Linked DNA regions of Homo sapiens. The protein of the gene in region 2 interacts with the protein of the main gene of each other region in a pairwise test. Each region holds a gene or a part of one and is shown on either strand. Other genes may lie near its edges.

Region 1 (7,727 bases), on a different chromosome or scaffold from region 2:
TTTTTTCTAAATTTGAAAGAATGGCTTTAGAGAAAAAACTGCTTCATCAACATCAAAACACCTCAAAATTATTACAGCGATGATCTCATAATATCACTGAAATGACAGATGAAAAAAATCTTTTCTTGCCCTAATGTAAAATCTCAGCAGGAAGCACTTAAGGTTAACTCCTGCTGACATGTCTAATCAGGTTGTAAAAGGGTTTCAGAGAATTAATCCTTGGATAAGGTGCTTTATACTGAAATAATGTAACCACTTTTCTTTGTAGTAATGAACCTTTTAATTTTAAAGGTAATTCTTCCTTGGGGACTTACTTAGTGCAATTCTAAGTTTTTTCCATATATTAAAGATGATTTAAAGTTGACATAGGGCAGATTTACAGTACACATAAGAGTCATAAAATGAAATGGAGAAAATATTCCAAGTCTTGATTTATGATTGAACCCTTCATAAGAATAATTAATTTACAACATTTTCTACCAGAATTTCCTTGAGACTATAGTTGAAAGAACTAGACTACAATAGATAGTATTGCTTAGTTGAGTACCAAATTTTATTAATGCAGATAATCCAGCTAGTTTAATTTTGATTTAAAACCTTTTTCCTGTCATCCCAACAGCTGTATTTTTACCTATGTGTACAGACATGTTTCATCTCTAGGGTTAATGGAAGTTTTACTATTTTAACGGTTTCTTCCCTCCTTAAAATTCTCTATCCTAGTTATCAGGCAAAAAATGTTTTGGGGCATGCTATTTATCCAGTCTAATAAAGCTAACTGGTAATATTCATCACCTAAAGAGTGATGAATTTAACACAAACAAATTAAACGAATTATTGGGGAGGCAGTCTTTTCTTTTGTTCAGAATTCATAAGGTTTGTGTTGTTAGCATGGTGTATTTTTAAAAGAATGATAAAAATAATCATGTTTAAAGAAATAAATTTACTTTAATGGTACTTTCAAAAAGACTAATCCATAACAAATTAAGTTATACTGTATTTCCTTTGCTACCCAGAACCACAGGGCTGGTTGTCAACACATATTGAAGAAATGTAAGCAAAATACAGAAAGTGATGATTTTCAAAAGGAAGAGAAGAAACTCCTTTTCAACAAACACTTTATATCATTTATTAATGCAGTATACATTAGATCTAAAATCTGCAGTTTCTAAGCACACCATGTTTAGATCTTTCAGATCCTTCTGCAGTTTTAGGTTATTTCTACAGAGGTACCTTTAAGTGAATGAATACCACATTCTGTAATTCCTGAAAATATAGTACAGAGTGAAATGATTTAAATATAATTTAGGCACATATTGATTATGAAAATAGATTATCTCTCAATACAATACTTCTCTGTCTTGGTAAAAATAATAAAGCAAAGAAAATAATTCATTTCTGAAGTTGCTTTCCTTCACTTGTAAAGGTCTGATCTCCTCCCACTATGCATATGTACCCTTTACTGTTAAGGAAAGCTTTGCATATGTAGATATAGAAGAATAAGCTACGTAAATACTAAAGATATGTCATTCTCCCAAAGGAGACACAGGTGGTTTTCAATGATTCCTTGCCTCATGTTGATGAGTCTGTAGAATTCAGAACCCATTTGGACACAGCTAATATCCCTGCTCTTGGGGTAGAAAATAAGGACACCAAGTCATTGGTAGGGAGGTACAGGCCCTTCCTCTGCTGCTGCAGAGAGAGAATGACTCAAGAAAATTGGGCTAAAATTTGTTTAAAAAAAAAAAACCACAAAAAAATAAGTAAAAGAATCACAGGTGCTGACTGATTGATAATTACATCTTGGACCAGCCAAATGCCTTTATTTTTACGTCTATTTTTTTGGTGGCTGTAATCAAATGTGTGTTTAAAATTCCTCATTCCCCACTGTAGGGTTCTAGCTGCAATTATATTACATTGCCTTTTAGCAGGCAACTCTACCATATTCACTCATATAAGCTTTGATTGCAGTAGCTCTGGATTTAGTATCTATTTCTAAGCTGGCCCTATGTAAACTATTTGGTATTTGAATTAAATGAATATTAATGATGCACCTTGGTTTTTTTGGTTTTGAAGTATCTTCCTATGCTTGTGATGACTGTATGAGAAAACTAGGCTAATAGTGTAAATAGATAGAATTGCTTGATCTGGTGTTGAGTGGAACTTGCCTAGAATGAAATTCTGAGAAATTCTCATTTGTAAGTGTTGTAGTGATAGGTAAGTTATTCCTCCATCCAGAGTTACACTGTACCTTTGGAATGACAGTGATGTACAATGATGTCTTTCTTTCCACTCTGTCTCAATCAGTAAGAACTGGATATTACTTTAATTTAGCTACTGTTCTGTCCTAAAAAGTAAACATTATAAAAATGAACCTGAAAAGAGTCTTAGGGAGTCTGATCTCACCATATTCATACGGTGTGACAGGTATTTAAAGAGGGGAGGCATCACTAAAGCTATTTATAAACCTGAACAACCTTTTCCAAGTTTTCATAAAGTTTTAACAATTTAAATATCCATACTGCATCTAGGAATTCAATAAATATAATTGCATATGTTGTGCTTTCCATAAATTAAAATCCTCAAATGCATCTCAAACCAAGATGGTATTTCCACATCATGCCTATTTAAAAGCAAATATAATAGATACTATGCCTGGTCATAAAACCAGGTAAACCCCCCTACCCCATTCAAAAGGCAGCAATATCTAGTTTCCCTACATCTATTAAATGAGTGCTTTTCTGTTAAAAATCAGAATATGGAAAAAAAGTCAGTTTTTTCCCTTATGCACCACTCAAAACAAGCATAATCCTCTAAATGTTTTTTTTTTAAATTTCCTTACAGTGTTATTTCTTCTAGACAACTGAGTGGGTGGAGAAAGAAAAGTGATAAGGAAAACATTTTCATCTTTTACATCTTCCTCCAGCCCCTAAAATTCTCATCTGACACTTTGTGACATGTGTAGTGGTGTCAGCATCTCTTCAAATATAGCTCCCTTCACGTTGGACCCTCTCAGGTTGGCTTCTTGAAGATCACACCCAGACAGATCACAATTCTGCAAGATGAAAACAATATTCATGTAATTCATGTGGAAATTTCAGGCCTTATCTATTTCTGCTCAAAATGATTTCTGGGGCAGATTAGGAAAATGTTCTTATACAATAAAACTCAGTTAATTTCCGGAAAACTGATGATACACCACCCTAAATTAAGATGTTCTTCTATCTTTATTTGTTACCTCTAGTTCAGGCTGATCACCATAAATATGTATAAACAAAGGTTAAAGAGGAAGCATGTCCCTTGTTCTTGCATATTTTATAAGGAGACATTGAAAACAGGGGTCCCCAACCCCTGGGCCACAGACTGATACTGGTCCATGGCCTGTTAAGAATCAGGCCACACAGCAGGAGGTCACCAGTAGATGAAGCTTCATCTGTATTTACAGCCAGTCCCTGTATGGCTCAAGTTACAGCCTGAGCTCCACCTCCTGTCAGATCAGCAGGGGCATTAGATTCGCACAGGAGCGTGAACCCTATTGTGAACTGCACATGTGAGGGATCTAGGTGGGGTACTCCTCATGAGAATCTAATGCCTGATGATCTGTCACTGTCTCCAACACCCCCAGATGGGACTGTCTAGTTGCAAGAAAACAAACTCAGGGCTCCCACTGATTCTACATTATGGTGAGTTATATAATTATTTCATTATGTATTACAATGTAATACTAGTAGAAATAAAGTGCACAATAAATGTAACGCGCTTGAATCATCCCAAAACCAGCCCCCGACTCTGATCTGTGAAAATATTTTCTTCCACAAAACCAGTCCCTGGTGCCAAAAAGGTTGGGGACCACTGATTTAAAATACAGAATGGATTCCAACATAATAAATACACACACACACACACACACACACACACACACACAATTTTTTTTTTGAAACGGAGTTTTGCTCTTGTTGCCCAGGCTGGAGTGCAATCTCGGCTCACTGCAACCTCCACCTCCAGGATTCGAGCTATTCTCCTGCCTCAGCTTCCAGAGTAGCTGGGGTTACAGGCACTCACCACCACGCCTGGCTAATTTTTTCTATTTTTAGTAGAGACGGGGTTTCACCATGTTGGCCAGGCTGGTCTCAAACTCCTAACCTCAAGTGATTCGCCCACCTTGGCCTCCCAAAATGCTGGGGTTACAGGCATGAGCCACTGCGCCTGGCCCCAAAGTAATAAATATTATCAAAACAATTTTACTATGATCCAAGAACAACAACAACAAAAGGAATGAGATGGGGGGAAGACTTTTTTTTTAATCTGAAAAGATTTTACTTAATCAAATTGTGTAATAGATTTTTCCATTCCCTAGCCCTAGTATTTTTATAGCAAGGAACTGCCCTTCTTTTTAAAGCCCCAAAGGTACGTATATAATACAGTGAGTTTGACAGATGTACAGAACAGTGTAACCACCGCAATTTGAAGCTATTTCTTAATTTGTCTTGAGATCACGGAGCAATAAGATAGAGATTCCACTTAAGTCCCTGGATATGATAGGGGACAATGGTTAGAGAGAAGGGTGACTAAACGTAACCTGTTAGGAGAACAAATGTCAGCAGCTCTCCCCTCAATAGTCAACCTGATCAGTCTTTGCAATCAGAGAGAGGGAGGCTTTTGCTGCTAGGCCACACTGAGTACACAGTACTAAAACCAAGGAAAAAAATATAATCTTAGGTGAAAGTAATGTAACAAACAATAAATAATTGTGCTCGTGATAGGATTATACTTAGGCCAATTCTTTTTGCCTTGAAGTTGAAAGGGGCCTGCTACTCTGCTACCGAGAGCTATCAAGATATCTAGGCAAAAATATTATGAAAAAACATTAACAGCAAGCTAAATTTTGACATACCGTTCTCTGCTATCCAATTTATACCAGATTTCATAGCTACCAGCCACATGTGGCTACTTAAATTTAAATGAATTAAAATTAAATAAAATTTAAAAATCAATTTCTCATTTGCACTAGCCAAATCTCAAGCGCTCAATAGCTATATATGGGTGGTAGCTACTATACTGAACAGCACAGATATAGAACATGTCCCTCCTGCACAAAGTGCTATTGGATAGTGCTGATATAGACCTATCAACAGCTATCAAGTCTGCTAGCTAAACTGGCAAATTAAGAAGACATACAAATATAATTCTTTGAAAAAGATGACCAGGCAAAATTATAATCTCAAGCTGAAAACCAAAAAACATATGGTTCCAATTTCAAATAGACTTTTCCTGAACCTGATTTCAAACCTGGATATCATTTAAATTTCTCAAGTAGTTTAAGAAGTAATCTAGCCCATTTAATTCTATTCGGAATTAAATTTTATGGAAAATGCAATACATTAGATAACACATCTATCAAACTTATTTACTTGAGAAAAACTCAAGGAAAAGGAGAGAAATGAAATCAACTTAGACTGAATGTCAGATGAGTCTTCCAATCCAGTTTTACCAGCCAACTACTTTGTTTTGATTTCAATAAATTTTGCATGAGATGCTTAGTAAGTCTAGAGTAATAAAAATTCTTAAAGTGTTGGTGAACTCACCTCTAAATCAGTTCCTGCCAGAGTTGCTCCTCTGAGGTTACAGTTCTTCAACTTTGCATTTTTTAAGGTAGCCACTCTCAGGTTAATTCCTGTCATCTGACTTCCTTCCATATCCACACCTTTCAGATTAGCACCTACAGTGAACACATTCTGGGAGTAGTTTAACTTAAAAATATAGTTATCTACCTTCAACAGAACTGCAAGATGACTTAATGGAGGCCTCTTTTAACTTTTGGAAATTAATCTAAAATCTTGTCTCTCAACGAACTTATATATATAAACAGTTTACTGATGAAAGAATGCTTTCACAATACTTTTGAGGGAAGAAATTTAGTTCTGTCTTATGATAGTTAGCACTTTCATAATATGCCTCTACAGGTTTATGATAAGGGAGTGAAGTAGTCTCCTAAATATACAAGTAAACAAAGTGATCAGTCACAGATAGTAACAAATTAAGAAACAATACATTAAATCTAAAAATGATTTTTAAAAACTCCCTGGCTTTATGCAAATGAAATTTTTCCTTTTGGTCAGTGTAAGAATATTTTATTCCATTTGAAAGTTTAAGATGTTGATATTTAATTTTCCAACTAAAACCTTATTAAATATTTGAGGTTTTATTTTTTCTGAGTCCTCAATTTTGATTAGCATTTGACTGAAACCAAATGGAGGTTTCTTACCACTTTGGAAGTTCTCCAAATATGATGACAGAAGAAACCTATCCCCTACAGCTATCCTGTTTCACCCTTAACAATTATTTTCCAGGGCTTTTTTCCTTTACAGTCTGCTTCCTTCGTAGAATAGGTATTTACAGAAAGGATCTCACCTTCTAAATTGGCTTTAAGACCAGAAGGATCCTCAAAATTACACAGTTTCAGGGATGCTCCTTCTGCATTAGAACAGAGCATCTTGACTCCCTGGAGATTCGCACACTGCAAAGAAAAGAGAAAAGTCCTGGTTGTAAGGTTCATAATTTTGTTCAAATTAGCTCAAACAGTAAAAGAAAAAAAATAGAAAAGAGGGAAAGGCTCAACTCAAAACACTCATACTCAATTTTATTTTCTGTTTACAATAAAGGCTTTTCTAATTAAATACAGTAAGAACTGGGAACATTTGAAAGAAAAATTTTTTTAAAGAACTGTTTTTTAAAAAATAAATGCAAATTAACAATAGCATGCTCATTTTACATGAAACATAACGGTTTAGATAAAGAAGTTGGGTGAGTCAGAACTCTGACACCTCTATCTCTATTTTTATAAACATACCTATGCATGACAATGAAACAGTCAAAATGTATGGGTAAGGAAGGCATAGACTTGTTAGGGGTATGGATTTTCTTATTACTGTAGGAATCTTGATGTTCTAAGTGAAATTCTTGATATTCTAAGATGCTACTACTGCCCTCAAGTCAGAGGTCAGAATACAAAAGCCAGCATTTAAAGGCATTATTTAGCTAGAAAACACTAACAAGATGCTGGCTGGGTCTTTCTGCACCAACCATGGCTAAACATTATTAACCCTGAGCAGGCACATCACAATGCATAATGCAGGGCAGAGAGTAAAATGGTAGAAAATATATGTTTTAAGACTTTATTTTTTTGTTTTGTTTTGTTTGAGACAAAGTCTCACTCCGTCACCCAGGATGGAGTGCAGTGGTGCTGTCTCAGCTCACTGCAATCTCTGCCTCCCAAGTTCAAGTGATTCTCGTGCCTCAGCCTCCTGAGTAGCTTGAATTACAGGCATGCACCACCACGCCTGGCTAATTTTTGTATTTTTAGTAGAGACGGGGTTTCGCCATGTTGGCTAAGATGGTCTTGACCTCAAGTGATCTGCCTGCCTCTGCTCCCCAAAGTGCTGGGTTTACAGGCATGATCCACCACACGCAGCCAAGAGTTTTAAATTATGTTCATTTATCTCAAAGCGTTTTTGACAAACATCTTTTTTTTTTTGTCCTTAACACAAACAAAGATGCCTCTCGACATTTCACTATTTAAAGATTAGGTCCTTCAAACGTTTTTTTGATGTTAGTCTTTTTCCTGTTTTGCTACTAACCTGACCCTTCATGATAAGACAGAATAAAGGACAGTGAAAGTAACTAAAATGCATATTTGGTAGATTTTGTTACTCGCCCTGATACACAGCTTC
Region 2 (6,530 bases):
GATAGCGTGATTGCAGTCCAGCCTAGGCAACAAGAGTGAAACTCCATCTCAAAAATAATAATAAATAATAAAAACACAAGTGGGGCCGGGCGTGGTAGCTCACGCCTGTAATCCCAGCACTTTGGGAGGCCGAGGCGAGTGGATCATGAGGTCAGGAAATGAAGAGCAGCCTGGCCAAGATGGTGAAACCCCATCTCTACTAAAAATACACAAATTAGACAGGCGTGGTGGCAGACACCTGTAATCCCAGCCACTCGGGAGGATGAGGCAGAGAATTGCTTGAACCCGGGAGGGAGAGGGTGCAGTGAGCCGAGATCATGCCACTGCACACTGCAGCCTGGATGACAGGGTGAAACTCCATCTAACAACGAAAAAAAATTGAATCTGTTGTGTAGGTAAGGCAGTTTTTTTTTTGATTTGGGTTTTTGAAGAATCATTCCTGGTGATCCTGAGGTCTAAATTAGAGTGATAGGGTGATAGTAAACACTTTGGCCAGGCGCAGTGGCTCACGCCTGTAATCCCAGCACTTTGGGAGGCCAAGGTGGGTGGATCACGAGGTCAGGGGTTCGAGACCAGCCTGACTAACATGGTGAAACCCCGTCTCTACTAAAAATACAAAAATTAGCTGGGCGTGGTGGTGCACGCCTATAATCCCAGCTACTCGGGAGTCTGAGGGGTGAGAATTGCTTGAACCCGGGAGGCCGAGTTTGCAGTGAGCCGAGATCGTGCCATTGCACTCCAGCCTGGGTGACAGAGCAAGACTTTCTCAAAAAACCAAAAAACAGACAACATTAGAGTGAAATCCTTCATTAGCTATGTATATATTGTTCACTTCAAAACAGAGTAAGATAAAGCAAACCATGTACATACTAGCATAGGTTACATATAAAATGTCAGTTATAGCCTCTGTATGTTAAAAAAAATTCGATGTAGTCACAAGGACAGAAAACCAAACACTGTGTGTTCTCGCTCATAGGTGGGAACTGAACAATGAGGTCACTTGGACAGAGGGTGGGGAGCATCATTTACCAGGGCCTGTCAAGGGGTAGGGGGTTTGGGGAGGGACAGCATTAGGAGAAATACCTAATGTAAATGATGAGTTGATGGGTGCAGCAAACCAACATGGCACATGTATACCTATGTAACAAACCTGCACGTTGTGCACATGTACCCTAAAACTTAAAGTATAATAAATTCAATATAGTGATTAAGTGGCATTGTACCACCCTGTTATCTTGGGAAGCAGATGCTTTCATGGACTAAATTTTGTGTTTGGTGCTCCTTTCTTGCAGCTTTCAGTAAATTCTCATTTTATGAAAGACCTGGGCTTAGACAGTTTGGACCAAGTGGAGATTATCATGGCCATGGAAGACGAATTTGGTAAGGCTCAGTCTTCTATCTACACACTGCGATTTTTGATTAAGGTGGATTAAACTGAAAGAAGTGGTGGGCGTCTGAATTGGAATTAGAATTAAATATTAATAGAAACAGTAGCATCCACTGCCCTTCACACACACCTTCCTGCCCACTTACCATCAGGTGAAGTAAGCTTTAGGGATGGTACATTTATTCAGAGAGCACCTTGCACAAGCCCAGCAGAGTGCCCAGTGTGGTGCCAAGAGCCGAATGACCAGAGATGGTTCCAGGGGACTGATTCTTCAGACAGGGTTCTAAGACAAAGGGCAAAAGCCTCCCCGGAACACATGCTGATGACATGTCAGCCCCTCCTGAGCTCGGGTAACGCGAACCAGGTAGAAGTAATGTGTGCCAGGACAAGAGACGCACCCAGAGCCTCTGGCCTTGGTCTCCTATCCTGGCTCACAAGCACACTCCAAGTTTGGGACTGTGTGTTGGGCAGGTGAGACCTTTATAAGGTTCCATGGCTGTTTCTGCGTGAGTTGGCTGAATAGGAAATCAAAGGACTTCTGTGCTGTTCTGCAGAGCAGGGCCTAGTTAAAATTCCTCACAGATGATGCTGACTAGGATGGAATCCCTTTGCCTAGTGCTTAAGAGTACCAGGTCTGGAATTGAGCTTAGTCAGGTATGAGCCTGGACAAGTAACTGTATCTCTCAAAGCCTGTTTCCTCAGCTGTAAAGTGGGGGTGATAATAGTAGGAACCCCAGGATTGGAATTGCTGTGAGAATTAGAGATGATGTGTAAAATGCTCAGCACAGTGTTTGGGCCAAAGTAAGCTAACTACCAAAACCCAGCCATTTATAAAAACCCAACCATCATAAAAAAAAAAATGCATGGGTGACGTGTGTTACAGCACACGAACCTTGAGAACGTGCCGAGTGAAAGAAGCCAGACACAGAAGATGACACGTTATATACCATTTACATGAAATGTCAAGAAGAGGCAAATCCAGAGATAGAAAGTACACGGGTGGTTGCCAGAGCTAGGGAGGATGGGGAGTGACTGCTGACGGGCACTGGGTTTCTTTTTTTTTTTTTTTTTTTAATTGATCATTCTTGGGTGTTTCTCGCAGAGGGGGATTTGGCAGGGTCATAGGACAATAGTGGAGGGAAGGTCAGCAGGTAAACAAGTGAACAAAGGTCTCTGGTTTTCCTAGGCAGAGGACCCTGGGGCCTTCCGCAGTGTTTGTGTCCCTGGGTACTTGAGATTAGGGAGTGGTGATGACTCTTAACAAGCATGCTGCCTTCAAGTATCTGTTTAACAAAGCACATCTTGCACCACCCTTAATCCATTTAACCCTGAGTGGACACAGCACATGTTTCAGAGAGCACCGGGTTGGGGGTAAGGTCATAGATCAACAGCATCCCAAGGCAGAAGAATTTTTCTTAGTACAGAACAAAATGGAGTCTCCTATGTCTACTTCTTTCTACACAGACACAGCAACAATCTGATTTCTCTATCTTTTCCCCACATTTCCCCCTTTTCTATTCGAAACAACCGCCATCGTCATCATGGCCCGTTCTCAATGAGCTGTTGGGTACACCTCCCTGACGGGGCGGCTGCCGGGCGGAGACGCTCCTCACTTCCCAGACGGGGCGGCTGCCGGGCAGAGGGGCTCCTCACTTCTCAGACGGGGCGGCTGCCGGGCGGAGGGGCTCCTCACTTCTCAGACGGGGCGGCTGCCGGGCGGAGGGGCTCCTCACTTCTCAGAGGGGGCAGCCGGGCAGAGACGCTCCTCACCTCCCAGATGGGGTCGCGGCCGGGCAGAGGCGCTCCTCACATCCCAGACGGGGCAGTGGGGCAGAGGCGCTCCCCACATCTCAGACGATGGGTGGCCGGGCAGAGACGCTCCTCACTTCCTAGACGGGATGGTGGCCGGGAAGAGGCGCTCCTCACTTCCCAGACTGGGCAGCCGGGCAGAGGCGCTCCCCACATCTCAGACGATGGGTGGCCGGGCAGAGACGCTCCTCACTTCCTAGACAGGATGGCGGCCGGGAAGGGGCGCTCCTCACTTCCCAGACTGGGCAGCCGGGCAGAGGGGCTCCTCACATCCCAGACGATGGGCGGCCAGGCAGAGGCTGCAATCTCGGCACTTTGGGAGGCCAAGGCAGGCAGCTGGGAGGTGGAGGTTGTAGCTAGCCGAGATCACGCCACTGCACTCCAGCCTGGGCAACATTGTGCACTGAGTGAACGAGACTCCATCTGCAATCCCGGCACCTCGGGAGGCCGAGGCTGGCAGATCACTCGCGGTTAGGAGCTGGAGACCAGCCCAGCCAACACAGCGAAACCCTGTCTCCACCAAAAAAATACGAAAACCAGTCAGGCGTGGCGGCGCGTGCCTGCAATCGCAGGCACTGGGCAGGCCGAGGCAGGAGAATCAGGCAGGGAGGTTGCAGTGAGCAGAGATGGCGGCAGTACAGTCCAGCTTCGGCTCGGCATCAGAGGGAGACCATGGAAAGAGAGGGAGAGGGAGAGGGAGAGGGAGACCGTGGGAAGAGGGAGAGGGAGAGGGAGACCTTGGGGAGAGGGAGAGGGAGAGGGAGACCGTGGGAAGAGGGAGAGGGAGAGGGAGACCGTGGGGAGAGGGAGAGGGAGCTGGGTTTCTTTTACACAATGGTGATGGTTGCACAATGTGAATATACTAAAAACTACCAAATTATATGGTATATACAAGGAGGAATTTTCTATTATGTGAATTCTATCTCAACAAACAAACAAACAAACAAACAAACATACCTCCAAAGCATCGTACCCAACCTGTATGCATACTGTCTAGAAGCTAACTGGCCCACAACCTATATGGGATTCAAGGTTGCTGAAAGTTTTGATATACTTGTAGCTGTTGTAGAAGGGTCAGGTGTGTTCAGTTCTAAAGGATTTTTTTTTTTTAACTCTCTCACATTGTTGTATATTTTTCTTTTAGGGTTTGAAATTCCTGATATAGATGCTGAAAAGTTAATGTGTCCACAAGAAATTGTAGATTACATTGCAGATAAGAAGGATGTATATGAATAAAGTATCAGGTAAATAGACTTAAAAAATGATGTTCACCCATAGATTTGTCTGTGGTTCTTCAATAAAGGAAACTTAAGAAGAAACAGAAAATGGAAATGCTTGACCAAGATTTTTCACTACTTATAAAATGCAAGCCCTTTCCTGTTGTCTGCCACTCAAAGGGGCCCAGCCCTGGTGGTGATCTTTGAGAGGTTGAGAACTGTCATTCCTGGATAGAACTCCCTTGATTGTCAGCTGTCCTCACAAAAGCAGAACATTGTACAAAGTACTGAACAGGGTAACCTGGAAACAGACCTCTGTCTCCCTCAATTACTCAGCCAAGGTAAGCCCAGCCTGCTGGGTAAGACACTGAAGTGACCTGGCTCTTAAGTAGGCAAGAGAGGCCTCATGTATAAGAGGATGGACTTTGGAGTCAGAGACACCCAAGTTTATTCTCAGCTTTGCCACACACTATAAGCCTGGTGGTCTCAGGCAGGCTGCTTAGCTCTGTAAGCCTCAGTTTCCTCATATGTAATATGGTGGTAATGATAGGACCTACCTGGGGCTTTTGTGAAAGCAAAATTGAAGAGAGTATATATATCACTTGATATAATGATGTAAAGAAGCCTCTCAGTAAATAGTAGCTTTTGTTACTTGGGACCTAGAATAATCAAATAAGACTTTTTGAATTAAAACATTGTATTAGTGTTTTTAGTCTTTAGCTTTTAGTGACCCTGCATTTTTTTTTTTTTTTTTTTAAAGATGGAACCTTGCTCTGTTGCCCAGGCTGGAGTGTAGTGGCACAATCTCGGCTCACTGCAACCTCCGCCTCCTGGGTTCAAGCAATTCTCCGGCCTCAGCCTCCTGAGTAACTGGGATTACAGGCGTGCACCTCCACGCCCAGCTAATTTTTATATTTTTAGTAGAGATGGGGTTTCACCATGTTGGCCAGGCTGGTCTCGAACTCCTGACCTCAGGTGATCCGCCCAGCTTGGCCTCCCAAAGTGCTGAGATTACGGGCATGAGCCACTGCACTCAGCCAGAGGCTGCATTTTTAGCACCTGAAAGATGTCACTTATCATTAGTAAGAATACATCAAAAATAACATTGAACTTATTTTGTCTTTTCCAGACCCTTTGGCTTTGCTGAGAGAGGACTCAGATGATAGTGACGAATGTCTGGCAGTGAGGACACATTTTGGCATTCTTGCTGACTCTGACAGAGTGATTCTGATGGACTTGTATTTAAATTGTATGTGTTTTACTCTTTGAAAATAAATCTATAAAACCAACATTTTCCCCCATCTTCAGTTTTTCAATGATGTCTATAAAGTGCTTTTTTATGTTTGTATACTGACATTGCTTAATATTTTTAAAGGTCTGATTTGTCATTTGTATTCATGCATGTCAAAAACAATGGCTTCCCCAGCCATGTACTTGAAGTAAGGCTGTCTCCCCACCTTCGTATCAGGAGTGAATATATTCATGGAAATGGACTTTTTGCTTCAAAAAAAACTTTGTTTTGGTTTCCATTAGCTTATTATCAGATGTGTCAGCTGATATCAGCAGGTGGGACTAGTTTTTCATCACTGTCCTAAAGATCCCTTTTAATACAGTTTAACAGTTTTGGAGAATGGGAGGCTCTCTTTCCTCCTGGAAGGTCAGTTTGACATTGCCACACATCAAACCACAGTTTGATTTGTCACACATCATTATTGGTTCTGCCCCTTTTACTCTTAGCACTGTGTTGGTTCCTTGGGGTTGATGTAAATAACATGTATGCATTGCTTAGCTCTTGAAGAGTTTAGTTTGAGAGTTACATCAAAATAATTCCTCTCCTTTTACTGACTTTCTAGTATGGGGAAGGAAGAGGAACCAAAGGCCTACAGTAAGTAGTGTCTTTGAGGCAGAGGGACTAAGGTGAGGGGCCCTCAGCCAGCAGAGAATCTCATGGCTGAGAGATGAGGTGGTCGAAGGATGGGAGTCAGCTCTGGGATTGGGTCCACACTCACATCTGCTTCCCTTCCTGCAGGTACCAATACGCTGGTTCCTTCTGGGTTGCTCTAGAGTTATTCCAGGCATGTTAGGCAGACATAGTCCTTTTTTTTTTTTTTTTTTTT
Region 3 (8,609 bases), on a different chromosome or scaffold from region 2:
CAGAACAAGACCCTGTCTCTTAAAGAAAATGAAAATTAAAAAAATTTTCCAGTCTGGACAGTATGGCGAAACCCTGTCTCCACTAAAAAATACCAAAAAAGTTAGCTGGGCATGGTGGCACATGTCTATAGTCCCAGCTACTCAGGAGGCCAAGGCAGGAAGATCACTTAAGCCTGGGAGGCAGAGGCTGCAGTGAGATCAGGCCACTGCACCCCTGCAGGGGGACAGAGCGAGACCCTGTTGCAAGATAAGAATTTTTTAAAACACTTTAAGCTTTTTTTTCAACAATTTTTGTGAGTGTATAGTAGGTGTATATATTTATTTGGGTATATATTTATATATATTTATATATTATTAGGTGTATATATTTATATATTTATATATATAAATATGTATATTTATTATGGAGTACATGAGATGTTTTGATATAGGCATGCAATGTAAATTAAGCACATCATGGAGCATGGGGTATCTATCCCCTCAAGCATTTATCCTTTGACTTATGGGGTATCCATCCCCTCAGGCATTTATCCTTTGAGTTACAAATAATCCAATTACACTCTGAGTTATTTTAAAATGTACAATTATTATTGACCATAGTCACCCTGTTGTACTATCAAATAGGTCTTATTCATTCTATTTTTTTTGTACCCATTAGCCATCCCCACCTCCCACCTACTTTTCCTTAATACTTACAAAAGGTAAAATGCACCTTCTGACATGGCCGAACTGTGCAAAGTGTTCTTTCAGCTGACCTGTGTGGCAGAAGAAAACATTAAAAGTAGTTACTATATTTTGGATTCTCTATCTTAGACTGTAGAAAGACAGGGTCACCAGATTTCTTGTGGACAGGAACTACTTTGCATTTCCTTAAAGGCTTAAGATTTAGGAAGCAGCTATGGTACTGACTATAAAGCCATAATGTACCAGACTTGGTGGTGAGATGGACAGAGAAGTTGTTGAGTTGGCTGCAGTCTCCATCCTCAGCAAATATCGAGTGTTTTCATACCAGTTACTGTGCTATGTGGACTATGATCCCTGTGAGCAGATCACAATGAAGAAAAAGACAAATTACAATCCAGTGTGTTTCCCGGTATACTGAAGATTTCCAAATAAAATCCCAACTTACTGGTCTTTCACAATTTAGTAAAATGTGTTGAGTTGCCCTCACCTACCCTTCCTGCCTTATTTCCCACTGCTAGCCCCTAGTTACTCTCTAGTACAACTAATTGAATTATCTTTATCTGTCCTGCGGGTTACCCTCTTTGCATATGTTGTTCTCTCCCCTCCATATGTTGGTAATCCTATCTCCCCCTGGCTAACTTGTAACACTATAACTATCCTTCAAGACCCAAACCAAGTACATCCACTGAGTATTACTTTATTGGGCTCCTATCACAGTACAAGACAATGTACCAGCCCTGTGAGACTTCAAAGATTTAGAGTATATAATCTTAAAGACTAAAAACTACACGATCTGTTTCTCTTCTGAACTACAGTGCTTGTACTTCACTGATTTACTTTTTATAATATCTATTTAGTTCTCCTAGTTCACCAAAACCTCACTGGTTCAACAATTGCCTATATTTGTTCTAAGTCTCTTCATCCCCACCACTAATTGTAAGCTCCCTCAGCATATAAACCACTATGTTTACAGTGACCAATAAACAGCAGGGCCTCAATATTGGCTAAATGAATAAGTAAAAGTCCACTAATCCTTCCAACAATCCACAGAGACTAAATTTTGAAGGGCTCTAATGGTTAAGTCAAACCAACTGGCAAGATCAAGGTCTCACAGAATATGATACTGGAGAACAAAATAATGTTAAACATATGTTTTATACCAGATAATTAAAGTCCTAGAAGACACTGATTTCAAAACAAACCAGCTCTGGAAGGTAACCCTCTTCCTAAATTGCCTAAAATGGTGAAGGAAAAACAGCTGCAAGCACCAAGAACAATGCCTACCACAGAATAGATACTCAAATAAATATTTGCTGAATCAATGGAACAACAAAGAGAAACTGTTTCGAAGCTGTACATAATGCTGACTCTTTTTAAGGGTTTTAAACTAGCCCTTTATTGTCTGGAAACTTGCATCCGCAAGATGCTAATGAAACTCCTCAGCCTTTCCATAAAGTTTCACAGGGACTACGGGAGACTTTACTGGGCTTGGTCTTCACCAACCACATGTTTAAAACACGGGGCACAAACCAACCTATTTCCCATTCTACTACTCACATCTGAGCCACTAAAAACTTAGAAGAAACTAAATCTTGCTCCATTTTGTTTCCAGGGGTTGACCTGAAACATGAATATCTACAAAAAGAGTGACCACGAATGTTTACATGTTGGTAAGCAAATATAAAAACCTCATCTCAAAACTGCAGCTGACAAAAATTGAAGGTGGTGAAAGATTTCAGAACTAATTATTCCAACCTTTATCTGTAGACTAGGCCTCTCCCGTAAGTTTCAATTTTAGTTACCGTGAAAATAACTATCATTTGCTGAGTACTTACACTGTATCTAACACAAGTCTAAGAAGTTTGCATATAAACTCAATCCTCTCAACAATCCTATGAGTTGGGTATTATTGACTCCATTTTATCGATGAGTAAACTGAGGCCCAGTTGTGAGCCCTTTTCCCATACTAACTTCAGTTATTCAAGTGATAACAACGATTAAATGGCCAAGTTGGAATTCTAACCCCAACGGTCTAGCTTCGGAGTCCACTTCTCAGCCACAATGATATACAACCTTTGTCCAATTGCCTGACGGAAACCTCACAAGTTTCTCAAAGTCAACACATTCAAACTTTACTCATCTTCTCTTGGCCTGCTCCTAACTTCTAAACAAACAATTCACCAATGCTAAAAACCCAGAAATCATTTCTCCCTTTCCTTTATTCCGTACACTTCTCCCACTTAAGCCATCACGAAACGGCATCTAATTTGCTTTTAAAACATTAATGCATCTGACCACCATCCTTCTACCATCGCCCTAATTCAGGTCCTCACGTTTTAAGTAAATTAATGAAATTGCCTTTTAGCTCCTCTGCACGCCTACAATCTTGCCACCTTGAATCCATCCTCCACACTACAGTCAAAATTATCCCTTCTAAATTGTAAATCTTGGTTACCAAGTAATAAATCTTTACACCAAATCACTCCTAAAGGCAAGAGCCGGTGCATTCGTGACCCCAAAAGCTCAAGGGACATCCCTAAACGGTTAACTGCAAACAAAATTTCTTTCTGCTCACTTGCATGCTCAGGAGCAGTCTCCTAATTCAGCCACCACGCTGACTTAAGTACCCTGCAAAAAGCAGAAGCTTTGAGGATCACTTGGACCTAAAAATTCCACTACTCCCACATCTCCATCACTCACTCGACGCCGCAGTCCAAGGAATTCTTCTCACAAAAGCAACCGGCTGATTGATACTTCTACGCAGCGCCGCAGCACCTCTCGCTGCTGAGGCCGCCATCTTCAGACTAAAGCACCTTCTCGAGCCGAGGTCGCGGCCCCGGAAAAAATTTCCGGATCCGGAACACGAGAGAATCTGCTTCCGGATCAGAGGGTATAGGCCGCGAGATGGGGAAGATGGCAGCGGCCGTGGGCTCTGTGGCGACTCTGGCGACTGAGCCCGGGGAGGACGCCTTTCGGAAACTTTTCCGCTTCTACCGTCAGAGCCGGCCCGGGACCGCAGACCTGGAAGGGGTCATCGACTTCTCGGCGGCCCACGCAGCCCGTGGCAAGGGTCCTGGTGCCCAAAAGGTACAGAGAGAGGAGTGGCGCGCGTCTCTCCATCGCTTTGCCCCGCGTCTTGGAGGGACTTACGTGTCTTCTTCGCCTCTTTTCACCTCCAGACCGATTGTTATTGAACGATTCCTGACCTCCTTTGGCTGCAGAGTCGAACTCCCCACTAACCGTCACACTTAGCAATAAAGCGTTGAGATGCCTGTTTCTTTAGGCGGCCATTCCTGGCGGGGGCGCTCAGTCAAAAGAGCCTGGGAATCCGTGTTTATTTCTTACTGTAACTGTCTCCTCACATTTCTGTTTGGGTTTTTGTAAAACCCCATAGAACGTCTTTGTAGACGGTAGGGTAGACTTCTGCAGCTTAAAAAAAACCACTCCCGAGGAATCCCAGAACTGACAGGGATGCGGCGCTGTTTGTTAAGCCACTGTGCGTAAAACTAGTCCCTGTCTTCTCCTCTGGCTCTTTTAGAAGGAGGTCATTGAAGGATTCTGAGAATCCCTCCGTGTTGAAAATAAATGGCAAACAAGTATATATGGAATACAGGCACCGTTCTCTCTCTCAGCTTTTCCCCATGGAGATTAAGAAGGGGAACACAGTCCGGGAGCGGTGGCTCAAGCCTGTAATCCCGCACTTCGGAGGCCGAGGCGGGTGGATCGCTTGAACCCAGGGGTTCGAGACCAGCCTGGGGCATGGCAAGACCCCCGTTTCCGCCAAAAATACAAAAAATTAGCCAGTCTCATAACCTGTTCTCAAGTAAATAGATTTTTTAAAAATTATTTTTTTAAGGGAACATAACAGGCAAGAGGGAAAACGGGGAACCAAAACTGTAGTCCAATTTATATTTTCTTTCTTTACAATCCACTTTAACGTTGAGGATATGCAGTCCCTTAATTTGCTCTTGGTGTTGTCCACAGATGTCTAGATGAGGCATTCTTTCCAAGCTTCCTAACAGCTCTGATAAAATTGGGATGCTACAGTATTAAGTGTTAATGATTGCATACTTGAGCTCAGCTTTTCAGCACCTTCATTTGTTAGGGAAAAAAAGTGGTCTTAGAGTTGTCAAAATACAGAAAGTCCACACCCCAATAATAATATACTTTTTCTCTCCAGAGCGCTTCAGACTCTCATTCAGCTCCTTTTACCTACATTTTACCATAATATGTACATGCTTTTTAGAATGTCAGCCATCAGGGAATGAGCCATTATGTGTCTAGTACAGGACCTAAAACAGTACTAAGTACAGTATGTGTTGAGTACATGAAAGCTTGGGTGTTTAGTTCCTCAGCTCAAAGCAGATTAAAGTAGTAATTAAGAGAAGTTACTATTACAAGCCAGCTGATGAGACTGGTGGGGAAAGTGGTGGTTAACAGTCTGGCAAGGGAGGAAAGAGAAAACCTTTTATAAAAGCTCAGTGGTGTCGTTCAGTTTAGCATATGATAGAATAGGTCCACTAACATCACCTCTGAGAGTGTGTTGAATTATAGTGCAGTATTAAGTATGGCCTATTAAAGAAATCATGACAAAATGCTTAAAAGTGTTTTACCAGTGCCTAGGTACCTGGAAAACTCAGCTGATAGTACTGTCAGAGGGTTTCATATAGCCCTTTTATTATAGAGACTGGTTATACATCAGCAAACTTTTGGTATTTTGTCCAGGAATCTCCACACTTGGAGAAGTTGATAAGATAAAAGATCATTCTCTTTCAAAGAGAATGTTTCATATATATATATATGTGTGTGTGTATATATGTGTGTGTATATATAATATATATACTTTTTTTTACTGAGACAGCGTCTCACTGTGTCACCCAGGCTGAAGTGCAGTGGCGTGATCTTGGCTCACTGCAACCTCCATCTCCTAGGTTCAAATGATTCTTCTGCTTCAGCCTCCCAAGTAGCTGGGACTACAGGCACGCGCCACCATGCCTGGCTAATTTTTGTATTTTTAGTAGAGACGGGGTTTCGCCATGTTGGCCAGTCTGGACCCAAACTCCTGACCTCAGGTGATCTACCTGCCTTGGCTTCCCAAAGTGTTGGAATTACAGGTGTGAGCCACCGCTCGGCCTGTTTCATATATTTTAAGGCAAGGCAGACCCTAGGTTTACTATTCAGGGAAGAATAAAGGTTTTTTCCTTTAATGTTTTGACTTCAATGACTGCATAGTGGGTCTCTTAACCAATGTAATGAGCCATCCATTAGATACTCACATACAAAGAAAACTTCAGCCCCTGAAATACTAAATTCATTTCTAAGTAATTAACAGAAGCAGAAGTTGTAGCGTCAGTTGGACATTTCATCTAGAAGAGGGCAAACAGGATTTTTTAGCTTTTACTTTTAGCAGACAGGATTCCCAGTGTCTCACTGCAACATTTTTTCTGTCTGTTTACAGCACTCTCTTTTCATTCTCTTTTTTTTTTTTTTTTTTTTTCTTAGACGGAGTCTTGCTCTGTTCCTAGGCTGGAGTACAGTGGCACAATCTCAGCTCACTGCAACTTTCACCTCCCAGGTTGAAGCAATTCTGGTGCCCCAGCCTCTCGTAGCTGGGATTTCAGGCGCCCGCCACTACACCCAACTAATTTTTGTATTTTTAGTAGAGACGGGGTTTCACCATGTTGGCCAGGTTGGTCTCGGACTCCTGACCTCGTGATCCGCCTGCCTCAGCCTCCCAAAGTGCTGGGATTACAGGCGTGAGCCACTGCGACCGGCCTTCTCTTTTCATTTTCTCACCCTGTCCAGCTTGGTGTTCCTTATAGCTCTGTTTAAATACCAACTCTATACAAGTGTCTCAAAAGCATTACTGTTAGCCCTAACTGAAGTAAATAGCTTTGTGACTCAAGATATTTCAGTACACCAAGCACCTTTCATGATTCAGCCCCATAAGAAGTTGGAAAGGTATGATGTCATAGGAAAAAGTAGTTTTGAAAGCCAAAATTAGCCTGCTTAAGTTTTCTTATTACCATTTTGCCTTAATTTTGGGTGACTCTACTGTTACTATATAGATGAGAAACTGAGGCTCTAAGACATTAAATGACTCATCTAAAATGCCCAGATCAAGTAAGCAGTACAGCTAAGATTAACCCCAGAGTTAATACTCCTTGCTTTGGCCAGGCACAGTGGCATATACCTCTAATCCCATTGCTTTGGGAGGCCAACACAGGAGGATCACTTGAGTTCAGGAGCTTGAGGCTGCAGTGAACTATGATCATGCCTCTGCACTCGCCTGAGCAATAGAGCAAGGTTCTGTATCTTAAACAAGAATCCTAGCTTTGCCTCATACAAGAAATGTGTTTGGAGGTTTGAGGTTCCCGGGGTTGACCTGCAAAATAGATTTAGTCCTTTAACTTCTGTTTCCTTCCTGCCAGGTGATCAAATCTCAGCTAAATGTGTCTTCTGTCAGTGAGCAGAATGCATATAGAGCAGGTCTTCAGCCCGTCAGCAAGTGGCAAGCCTATGGACTCAAAGGCTATCCTGGTGAGTGTAACTGACCTCAGAGAAGGCAATATCACTCAATCATTTATGTCTTCATGTCTTCAAAGAAGGTACTGTGTGTGAGCAAGTAAATAGACAAAGGATACACATAATAAACAGATAAATGTTTCATTTCCAAACCCATTCTAGACTGTACCTTGTCTAAGACGTCCGTTTTGAAAGGATAGAACAGGAGTCAGCAGTGCCTGCAAATGTGGCTGAAAGTGGCATGACCATTGAAAAAATAAGGACATTGCCTCTGGGCTCCCTGCCACAACTCTGAACATCTGATTTGGCAGAAGTGCTGTGAAGAATAATTTATCATTATCATTGTAATAAATGTCATAATAGTTATGAATAATTCATAATTGTCCCTCTAGTCACATTCTCAAATGGCATAACAACTTAAAACTTGTTGCTATCAAGGCTGAACATATTTAATAAAGAATTACAATTAATGACATCAAAAGTCCTCGCCAGGCGTGGTGGCTCATGCCTGTAATCCCAGAACTTTGAGATGCCAAGGTGGGTGGATCACCTGAGGTCAGGAGGTCAAGACGAGCCTGGCCAACATGGTGAAATCCCGTCTCTACTAAAAATACAAAAATTAGCTGGGCATGGTGGTGCGTGCCTGTAATCCCAGCTACTTGGGAGGCTGAGACAGGAGAATCGCTTGAACCCAGGAGGTGGAGGTTTCAGTGAGCCAAGATCGCGCCATTGCACTCCAGCCTAGGCAATAAGGGGGAAACTCTGTCTCAAAAAAAAAAAAAAAAAAAAAGCTGGACGCAGTAGCTCACGCCTGTAATCCCAACACTTTGGGAGGCCGAGGCGGGCGGATCACGAGGTCAGGAGATTGAGACCATCCTGGCTAACAAGGTGAAACCCCATCTCTACTGAAAATACAAAAACAAAATTAGCCGGGCATGGTGGCGGGCCCCTGTAGTCCCAGCTACTCGGCAGGCTGAGGTGGGAGAATGGCATGATCCCGGGAGGCAGAGCTTGTTGAGCCGAGATTGTGCCACTGCACTCCAGCCTGGGCAATAGAGCAAGACTCCATCTCAAAAAAAAAAAAAAGAAAGTCCTAATAGGGACCAGGCGAGGTGTCTCACACCTATAATCCCAACACTTTAGAAGGCCAAGGTGGGAGGATCATTTGAGCCCAGGAATTTGCGACCAGCCCGGGTAACATAGTAAGACCCTGTCTCTACAAAACAAAATTTTTTTTTCCCAGACAGTCTCACTCTGTCGCCCAGGCTGGAGTACAGTGGCACAATCTCAGCTCACTGCAACCTCCGCCTGCCAGGTTCAAGTGATTCTTCTGCCTCCCGAGTAGCTGAGACTACAGGTATATGCCACCACGCCCAGCTAATTTTTGTATTTTTAGTAGA
Region 4 (7,964 bases), about 48 Mb from region 2:
CACACACCTGCCTTATTAACATTTAATTCACACACCATACAATTCATCAATGCAGAGTATAAAATTAAATAGGTTTTAGTGTGTTCAGAGACTTGCGCAAACATCACCACAATCAGTTTCAGGACATTTTCATCTCCCCAAAGGAACCTCATAACCATCAGCAGTCACTCTCCATTTTCCCTCTGGTAAGCAGAATGGTGTTTTGTTCCCCTCAAAGATGTATATGTCCTAATCTCTAGAACCTGTGAGTACATTAAGTTACATGACAAAGGGAAATTGAGGTTGCAGGTGGAATTAAGATTGCTAGTCAGCCAACTTTAAGATTATCTTGGGGCTAGGCACAGTGGCTCACATCTGTAATCCCAGCACTGTGGGAGGCCCAGGTGGGCAGATCACTTGAGCCTGGGAGTTCAAACCAGCCTGGGCAACATGACAAAACCCTGTCTCTACCGAAAAAAAAAAAAAAAAAATTCCAAAAAGGAACAAAAATTGGCCAGGTGTGGGCACACGCCTGTAGTCCCAGCTACTAGCTGAGTTGGGAGGATCACTTGAGCCTGGGAGGTCAAGGCTGCAGTGAGCCTTGATTGAGCCACTGCACTCCAGCCTGGGCAACAAAGCGAGACCCTGTCAAAAAAAAAAAGATGATTATCTTGGATTATTCAGGTGGGCCCAGTGTAATCATAAGAGTTCTTGAACGTGAAAGAGGGAATTGAAAGAGAATCACAAAAATGACAGCACAAGAAGGACTTGGCCCAACCTCACTGGCTTTGAAGATGGAGGAAGGGGCCAAGGGTCAAGGAAAGTGGGTGGCCTCCAGAAGATGAAAAAGGCAAGGAAACAGATTCTCTCCTTAGTCTAAATCCTGAATTTATACCAGTGGGACCCATTTTGGATTTCTGACCTCCAAAACTCTAAGATAAATTAGTGTTGTTTTACGCCACTACTCATGGCAATTTGTTACAGCAGCAATAGAAAATTAATAGACACACATGTACATACCTCTCTTCTTCCCCCAATTCTAGACAACCACTTTCTTTATAGATTTGCCTATTCTGGATATTTACATTACATAAATGACCATTAAGTCTGGATATAAAACAAAAACAAGTCTCTATTGTTAATTTTATCGGTTTTTAGAAACATGGGAACCCGTATGTTTACTTGGTGAAGAGTTGAGTATATTCTTGGCCAGAAGATGGGAACACTAAAATTAAAAACAAAAAGAGTTGGGAATAACTTATTTTTGTTTTGCAGGGAGTGGAAAGGAAGAAAATTTCCACTCTCATTTGTCTGGAAAGTCTCCCAGAGAGTTTTCAAGATCATTAATAATAATAGCTAATTCACACTGACCTGTCTTCCCAGCCAATGTATCACCTCTAAGGAAATGTATACTTGATATGTTTTGGCTCTGTGTCCCCAGGCAAATCTCATGTTGAATTATGATCTTCAGTGTTGGGGGAGGAACATGGTGGAAGGTGATTGGATCATGGGGGCGGATTTCCCCCTTGCTGTTCTCGTGATAGTGAGTTCTCATGTGATCTGGTTGTTTCGAAGTGTGTTGCGCTTCCTCCTTTGCTGTCTCTCTCCTGCTGGCCATGTGAAGATTGTGCCTGCTTCCCCTTTGCTTTCCACCATGATTGTAAGTATCCTGAGGCCTCCCCAGCCATGCCTCCTGTACAGCCTGTGGAACTGTTAGCCAATTAAACCTCTTTTCTCCATAAATTACCCAGTCTCAGGTATATCTGTATAGCACTGTGACAACGGACTAATACAATACTCATACTCATGTCTGTCACAATCTCTACCATCAAACATAATTACTTTCAAGCTTTGACCATTCCTTAGATTCCAATGGGAACCACCTTTCTTTCTGGTCACCTCACAGCCTAACTATCCAGCTCTCCCTCTAACTCCTACAGTATCTTTAACTGAAGCTATAAGTAATATCAGATCATGATACCCAGAGTATGGTGTATGATCATGGCATATTTACTGTTACTTAATCCTGACTTGAAAATACTAACTTCTCTCCCATATGTCTGAAAATCCCAGCCACAAATAGGCTGAGGCTGTGGTGGAACTTAAGTTTCATGCACAAAGTCATTTTTGCCTTGGCTGCAAAAAAATATGTAGTTAAGCTAAATATTGTGCTGCAGTATCTATACTGACATATAATTCAATATTATTCTCTCCTTGCAGCTGCAAACATACTTAATGATGAAAGACAGAATGTCTTTCCCTCCAAGATTGGGAACATGGCAGGTATGTCTGCTCTTACCACTACTATTTAACATCATATTGGGAGTCTTAGCAAGAGCAAGGCCAGAAAAAGAAATAAAAGGCACATAGGTCAGACACAGTGGCTCACACCTGTAATCCCAGCACTTTGGGAGGCCAAGGTGGATGGATTGCTTGAGGCCAGGAGTTCAAGACCAGCCTGGCCAACATGGAGAAATCGCATCTCTACTAAAAATATAAAAATGAGCCAGGTGTGGTGGTGTGTGCCTGTAATCCCAGCTACTCAGGAGGCTGAGACATGAGAATTGCTTGAACCCGGGAGGTGGAGGATGCAGTAAGCTGAGAATATGCCACTGCACTCCAGCCTGGGTGACAGAACGAGACTATCTCAAAAAAAAAAAAAAAAGAAAAAGAAAAAGAAATGAAATGAAAGACACACAGATTCGAAACTCAGAACAAAACTGTTACTATCTGCAGGCAACATGATTATCTGTATAAGAAGTCCCAAAGAATCTACAAAACAAGCTCCTAAAATTAAAAGTGAGTTCAGACTGGTCACAGTGGCTCACGCCTGTAATCCCAGCACTTTGGGAGGCCGAGACAGGCGGATCGCCTGAGGTCAGGAGTTTGAGACCCGTCTGACCAACATGGTGAAACCCCGTCTCTACTAAAAATACAAAAATTAGCCGGGTGTGGTGGCAGGCACCTGTAATCCCAGCTACTCGGGAGGCTGAGGCAGGAGAATCACTTGAACTCGGGAGGCGGAGGTTGCAGTGAGTAGAGATGGTGCCATTGCACTCCAGCCTGGGTGACAAGAGCGAGACTTCGTCTCAAAAAAACCAAAACAAACTAACAAAAACATAAAAACACTATGGGACAATGGCATTTGTTTGGACACAGGTCTCCAAATCTGCCTCTTCAAAAGAAACAGACACTGCAACTGCAAGAGCCTTGGTTAAAGACTTAAGCCGGCCCCAACTAAGAGTGGGGATGGCTTCCCTAGGAGGTAGGAATCAGCTGGAGTCCTTGCCTCTCCTGGTGCCCAGGCAGTGCCATCTGCAGACACTTCTGTCATCCTCCCATCCTTGGGGGGCTCTTTCTCCAGCTCCAGTTCGTGAGCGGCAAAGCTTGCAGCTGTACAGCCTCCAAGAGCAAACAGCCCAGGTCCCACCCGGCCACAATTGTATAGTGACGCCCTCCCCGTCCCCTTCTTTGAGCTGCGCTCAAAGGACCAGCCTGGACTGCTATGCTGTCTCACTCCCAACCCAAGCTCCGCCCAACTGTGGGTCCTTGCACTTTGGCACCTTTGAGCGCGGACTCAAAACAGGCCAGAAGCGCACCGCTAGCGAGAACGGTTAGGAGGCCGGAAGTGCGTCACGCTTGTGGGGCGCTTGGAGGCCAGAAGTGCGTCATGAGCACGGCTGCTCTTTCTACGGTGCAACTTTTCCGCATCTCGGTGTTTCCGATTGGGAGACATCCTCTTCCTTTCCTTGTACACACTTTTTTCTCTCCTCAGGAACCTCACGCCTGGGTCATTGTCCATTTGGGTGGGTCAAGAAAGCGATCGCTTCTGCCCGGGAGCAGTTGATTGTCAGGAAGGAATTCGTGATAAAACCGCCATCACCACAGGCCTAGATGGTGGCCGGTGTTTCCTGGTTGCTTACTGGTCTTTCTGAGTTCTGGTTCACTCGCAGTGAATCAACTTCCTTTCACAAGCTCTGCCACTCACGGGCCATTGAGGAAGACCCTTGTGTCTCTGAGCAGCTTTTGTCTTCTGTAAAATGAGCCAGTCAGATTATACCATTCAAGCTGTCTTTAATTCCATGCACTGTAACCTCCAATGGTTTGCCACTACCCCTGGAGTCCAAGTCACCATTCAAGGCTCCTCAGACCCTTGCCCTCCTTCCCCTCTAAATGATAAAGAAAATGCCAAAAGCGCAGGGCATATGGGCTAAGAGAGATAGCTCTAAAGTGTTAGTGCCTGTGGCTTTCTGGGTCCACAAAAGAGAACTCTGGCCAGGATTTTGCTGGACTGTCAAAACGTTTGTGATCACTGTCACAGAATTACAAAACAAACTGGGGACTTAGAGCTTCTTAGTCCCATCTCCTTTACAACAGTATGACATAGTGGTAAGGAGCACAGCCTGGCATCAGGATGCTTTGTTTCAAAGGCCAAAGGACCACTCTGTGACCTTTGGTGCATTACTTAACCTGTAAGTGTCACATTTATTTCTAAAACTAGGATAATAATAGTATTTATTCCCCGGATTGTTGTGAGGATTAGATGTTAGTACATGTAAATCAGTACAATGTCTAGCACATACTAAACACTCACTAGATATTAGTAATTATTACACTCACTAGATATTAGCGATTATTAATAGCTTAGGAATTGAGCCTGAATAGGCTCTGGAGTTAATCCAGTATTCAATCTTTTTATTAAAACCTTTGAAAATGGTTATAAACCTCAGTGGGTTTGGGCATCTGTACACTTTTTACTACCAGACTAGATAGTATAAGCAAAGCCTGGTGGCAGTTCAGGGTTGGTTCTTAGAAGATCAGAGTGCTAAAATAGCTAGCTCATCATGAGCTGAGGACTTCCAGGATGACTAGTTGGACTTGCTGTTCAGTTGGGACTTCAGCAACACAAGTCCAGACAAATGGGACCATGATCCAGGTCTTCAAGAGCAACCCTCAGGCTTTCTGCAGAGTGTAAACTCCTCAAGAAAGAGGCTTTTCTATCTTGTCCATGACTGTATCCTGAGTTTCTAGAATAGTGTTTATAACACAGTTCATGATCAATAATCATTTTTTGATGAATAAAGAGTTGGACATATATGATTATACTCCCTTACTATAAGGGAGAGTGGGACAGATAATACAAGCACTCAACGCAGAATGAATCATGAGTAAGAGAAAACCAAGACTCAAAGAGTTTCAGTAAGGCCACAGCATATAATAGGTATCAGAGTTAAGATTTAAACCCTAGATTATTTCCACCATGTCAAACTGGCTTTCCAGAACAATATACTAAGTGGTATTCCAAGTCCCAATACGCCTTTCTATGCTCTCACACCGTGGACACAAGCTTTCTGACCTCAGTCCCTTCAGGAAGAGAGAGAGAGAAGAGCAACAGTAACTGTAAGAGGAAAAATCATCAAATTCTGAAATAAGGGCCAAAGAACCATATAAGATGACACGAGTCCCATTTTACAGATGAGGAAACTGAACACAGAAAGATTAAATAACGTGCTCAAAGTCATGCACAGCTCTTATGTGGCAGAGCCAGAATTCAAACCATGATAGTTTGGCCTCAGTATACACACATAAGCACTCTATCACTGCCTCAGATACGTAGTTCTGTGTCTCATAGTGAAGAAGTTGAAATATGTTAAGCCAAACTAATGTTTCCAAGCCTCCATTTATTAACTGTGATTTGGGGCAAGTTACCTAGATTCTCTGTGCCTTCAATTTTCTCACCTATAAAATGGGTACAATATTAATACCTACTTTGTAGGCTGTTGAGAGGATTAAACAACATGTGAAAATCATTTATTTTCATATCTAACTTATTGTAAACATTCGCTACATTTCTAATTAATTGATTGTTTCATTTTTATTTAGTTTTTTTTTTCTTTAGAGTAGGGGTCTCTCCATGTTGCCCAGGCTGGATTTGCACTTCTGAGCTCAAGTGATTCTCCCCAATCAGCCTCTCAAATAGCTGGGTATATAGGCATGTGCCACTGTGCCCAGATAAGGTATAATTTAAGTTCAGTAAAGAGTACAAATCTTAAGTGTAAAACTTGATGAATATTTATATATGTAACTTCAACCTGATCAAGATATAGAATGTCCCCAGCACCCCAAAAACCTCTCTGTTATACCCCTTCCTAGTTGATAGCCTCCCCAAAATAATCACTATTCTGACCTCCATCACCTTAGCTTTACCTGTTTTTAAACTTTATATAAATGGAATCATATTGTAATAGAACCATGCAGCTCATTTCTTTAATCTAACATAATATCTTTGAGATTCATCTATTGGATATAACTATAGTTCATTCATTTTTATCATTGTTTAATGGTTCATTGTTAAATAAACCACATTTTTTTACCCAAAAAAATCTACTGTGATGGACATTTAGTTTTTTTTTTACTTTTTGGCTCTTATGAATAACCTTGAAGATTATTTATGAATAACTGCAATAAACATTTTCACACGTCTGGTGAACATAAGCTCTTATCTTTCTTAAACATACTTAAGAGTGAATTTGCTGAGTCATTGGATATCATACATTTCGCCTCAGTCAATAACTGCCACCAGACCAGGTGGTATAAGCAAAAAGATAACACAACTTTATTACTATTAATAATTTTTTCTTTTTTAATGTTTTAGAGATGGGGCCTTGCTATGTTGCCCAGGCTGGTCTTGAACTCCTGGGCTCAAGAGATCCTCTGCCTCAGCCTCCCAAAGTGCTGGGATTACAGGCATGAGCCACCATGCCCAGCTAATAACAATTCTTAATATCCTTTAATACCCAGCCATAATCCATTTTCCCTGATTGTCTCAAAAATGTCTTTTTACAGGTGGTTTATTCTAATCATGACCTAAACAAGGTCCTTACGCTGCATTTAACAATATGTCTCTGAAGTCTCCGTGTAAAATGCAGTTTTTCAGTGTGCTTGTACCAATTTCCTGTTTAGTAGCAGCATATGAGAGTACACTTGTTCTACATCACACTCAATAAATGTGAACCATTATGAGAATTGTAACTCTAATTATTTGGTGAATCAGAGGAGGAAGGCTAAAATTATACTGGGTTTTGCCTGGGGTAACTGAGTAGGTGGTGAGGTTTCAGGGGGAGAGGCGGACAAGCAATAATGAGTTTTTGGTGTCTGCATGGAAATACATCTAGTTGGACATGTCATCTGAAGCCCAGGGGAAAGTGCAGGGCAGAGGTAGTGATATGGGTGGATAAAGATGTAAGACCAGATGGGATCACAATGAGCCAACAGAGAATTTGTAACCAAACAGCCTAGCCTGAAAATGCATTTTAAAACCTTTTTTCTTTTTTCTGTTTTTTCCCTAGTCTCAAGATATAACCTTGAAGCTTACTGCATATATCATTGTTTTCTTCTCCTTAGTCTTAAAGTACAGCCTTGAAATTTACTTTCTTTGAAACACCACGTCCCTCCCTTTCTTACCATACACTTCCTTACACCATGCACATTTTTATCTAACTATATGCTGGTATCTAATTATGTGATTACTTAGAAATTCCAGGGGCTAATCTTGAAACAGACCAAGCATAGGGACCCAGCTGCAAAATTCCAGAAATTCAAGGCAGTTAGAAAATAACCTGGCCATTGTTGAGATGATGCCAGCCCACACTCTAAGTGGACCACAGCTCAAGATAGCCACTGGAACAAGACACGTAGACCTTGTACTCAGTACCCCTCTCACATGCCTCCCATTCCAAGTTCCCTTTTTTAAGCCCTTCTCCTCAGCCTAAAATTTGAAGTGGTTACCTTGGATGTGAATCCAGCCACTTCCCCACTGCAAGTTTTGGTAAAGAATAATGTCACTTTCTTTCTATCATAGCTCGCTCTTGTTATTGGATTCTGCAAGCAGCAAGCGGCCAGACCTGCCTTCGGTTACAAGTTCAAAGGCCCAGATGGTTCATTTAAATAGAATAGGGGCCTAAGTTTCTGTATTTTTCACATGT

What was found.
Region 1: the proteins of NDUFAB1 (region 2) and KCTD9 interact in binary tests that used the Homo sapiens proteins (3 or more experiments, as listed by UniProt).
Region 3: the proteins of NDUFAB1 (region 2) and SLIRP interact in binary tests that used the Homo sapiens proteins (3 or more experiments, as listed by UniProt).
Region 4: the proteins of NDUFAB1 (region 2) and ZNF19 interact in binary tests that used the Homo sapiens proteins (3 or more experiments, as listed by UniProt).

The regions. Positions count from the first base shown.
Region 1 is NC_000008.11:25,426,922-25,434,648, forward strand, and holds the end of KCTD9 (BTB/POZ domain-containing protein KCTD9), read right to left. Parts: intron 6,515-7,727; coding exon 6,409-6,514; intron 5,733-6,408; coding exon of another isoform or gene 5,717-5,732; coding exon 5,583-5,716; intron 3,053-5,582; coding exon 2,936-3,052; 3' UTR 926-2,935; downstream 1-925. UniProt on the Homo sapiens protein: Substrate-specific adapter of a BCR (BTB-CUL3-RBX1) E3 ubiquitin-protein ligase complex, which mediates the ubiquitination of target proteins, leading to their degradation by the proteasome.
Region 2 is NC_000016.10:23,580,186-23,586,715, reverse strand, and holds the end of NDUFAB1 (acyl carrier protein, mitochondrial precursor), read left to right. Parts: intron 1-1,292; coding exon 1,293-1,380; intron 1,381-4,340; coding exon 4,341-4,432; 3' UTR 4,433-4,440; intron 4,441-5,542; 3' UTR 5,543-5,702; downstream 5,703-6,530. UniProt on the Homo sapiens protein: Carrier of the growing fatty acid chain in fatty acid biosynthesis.
Region 3 is NC_000014.9:77,702,984-77,711,592, reverse strand, and holds the start of SLIRP (SRA stem-loop-interacting RNA-binding protein, mitochondrial isoform 1 precursor), read right to left. Parts: upstream 3,491-8,609; 5' UTR 3,482-3,490; coding exon 3,385-3,481; intron 1,039-3,384; exon of another isoform or gene 928-1,038; intron 756-927; coding exon 697-755; intron 1-696. Other genes in the region: nucleic acid dioxygenase ALKBH1, read left to right, coding at 3,589-3,771, 7,116-7,224. UniProt on the Homo sapiens protein: RNA-binding protein that acts as a nuclear receptor corepressor. Probably acts by binding the SRA RNA, and repressing the SRA-mediated nuclear receptor coactivation. Binds the STR7 loop of SRA RNA.
Region 4 is NC_000016.10:71,485,730-71,493,693, forward strand, and holds the start of ZNF19 (zinc finger protein 19), read right to left. Parts: upstream 3,596-7,964; 5' UTR 3,543-3,595; intron 1-3,542. UniProt on the Homo sapiens protein: May be involved in transcriptional regulation.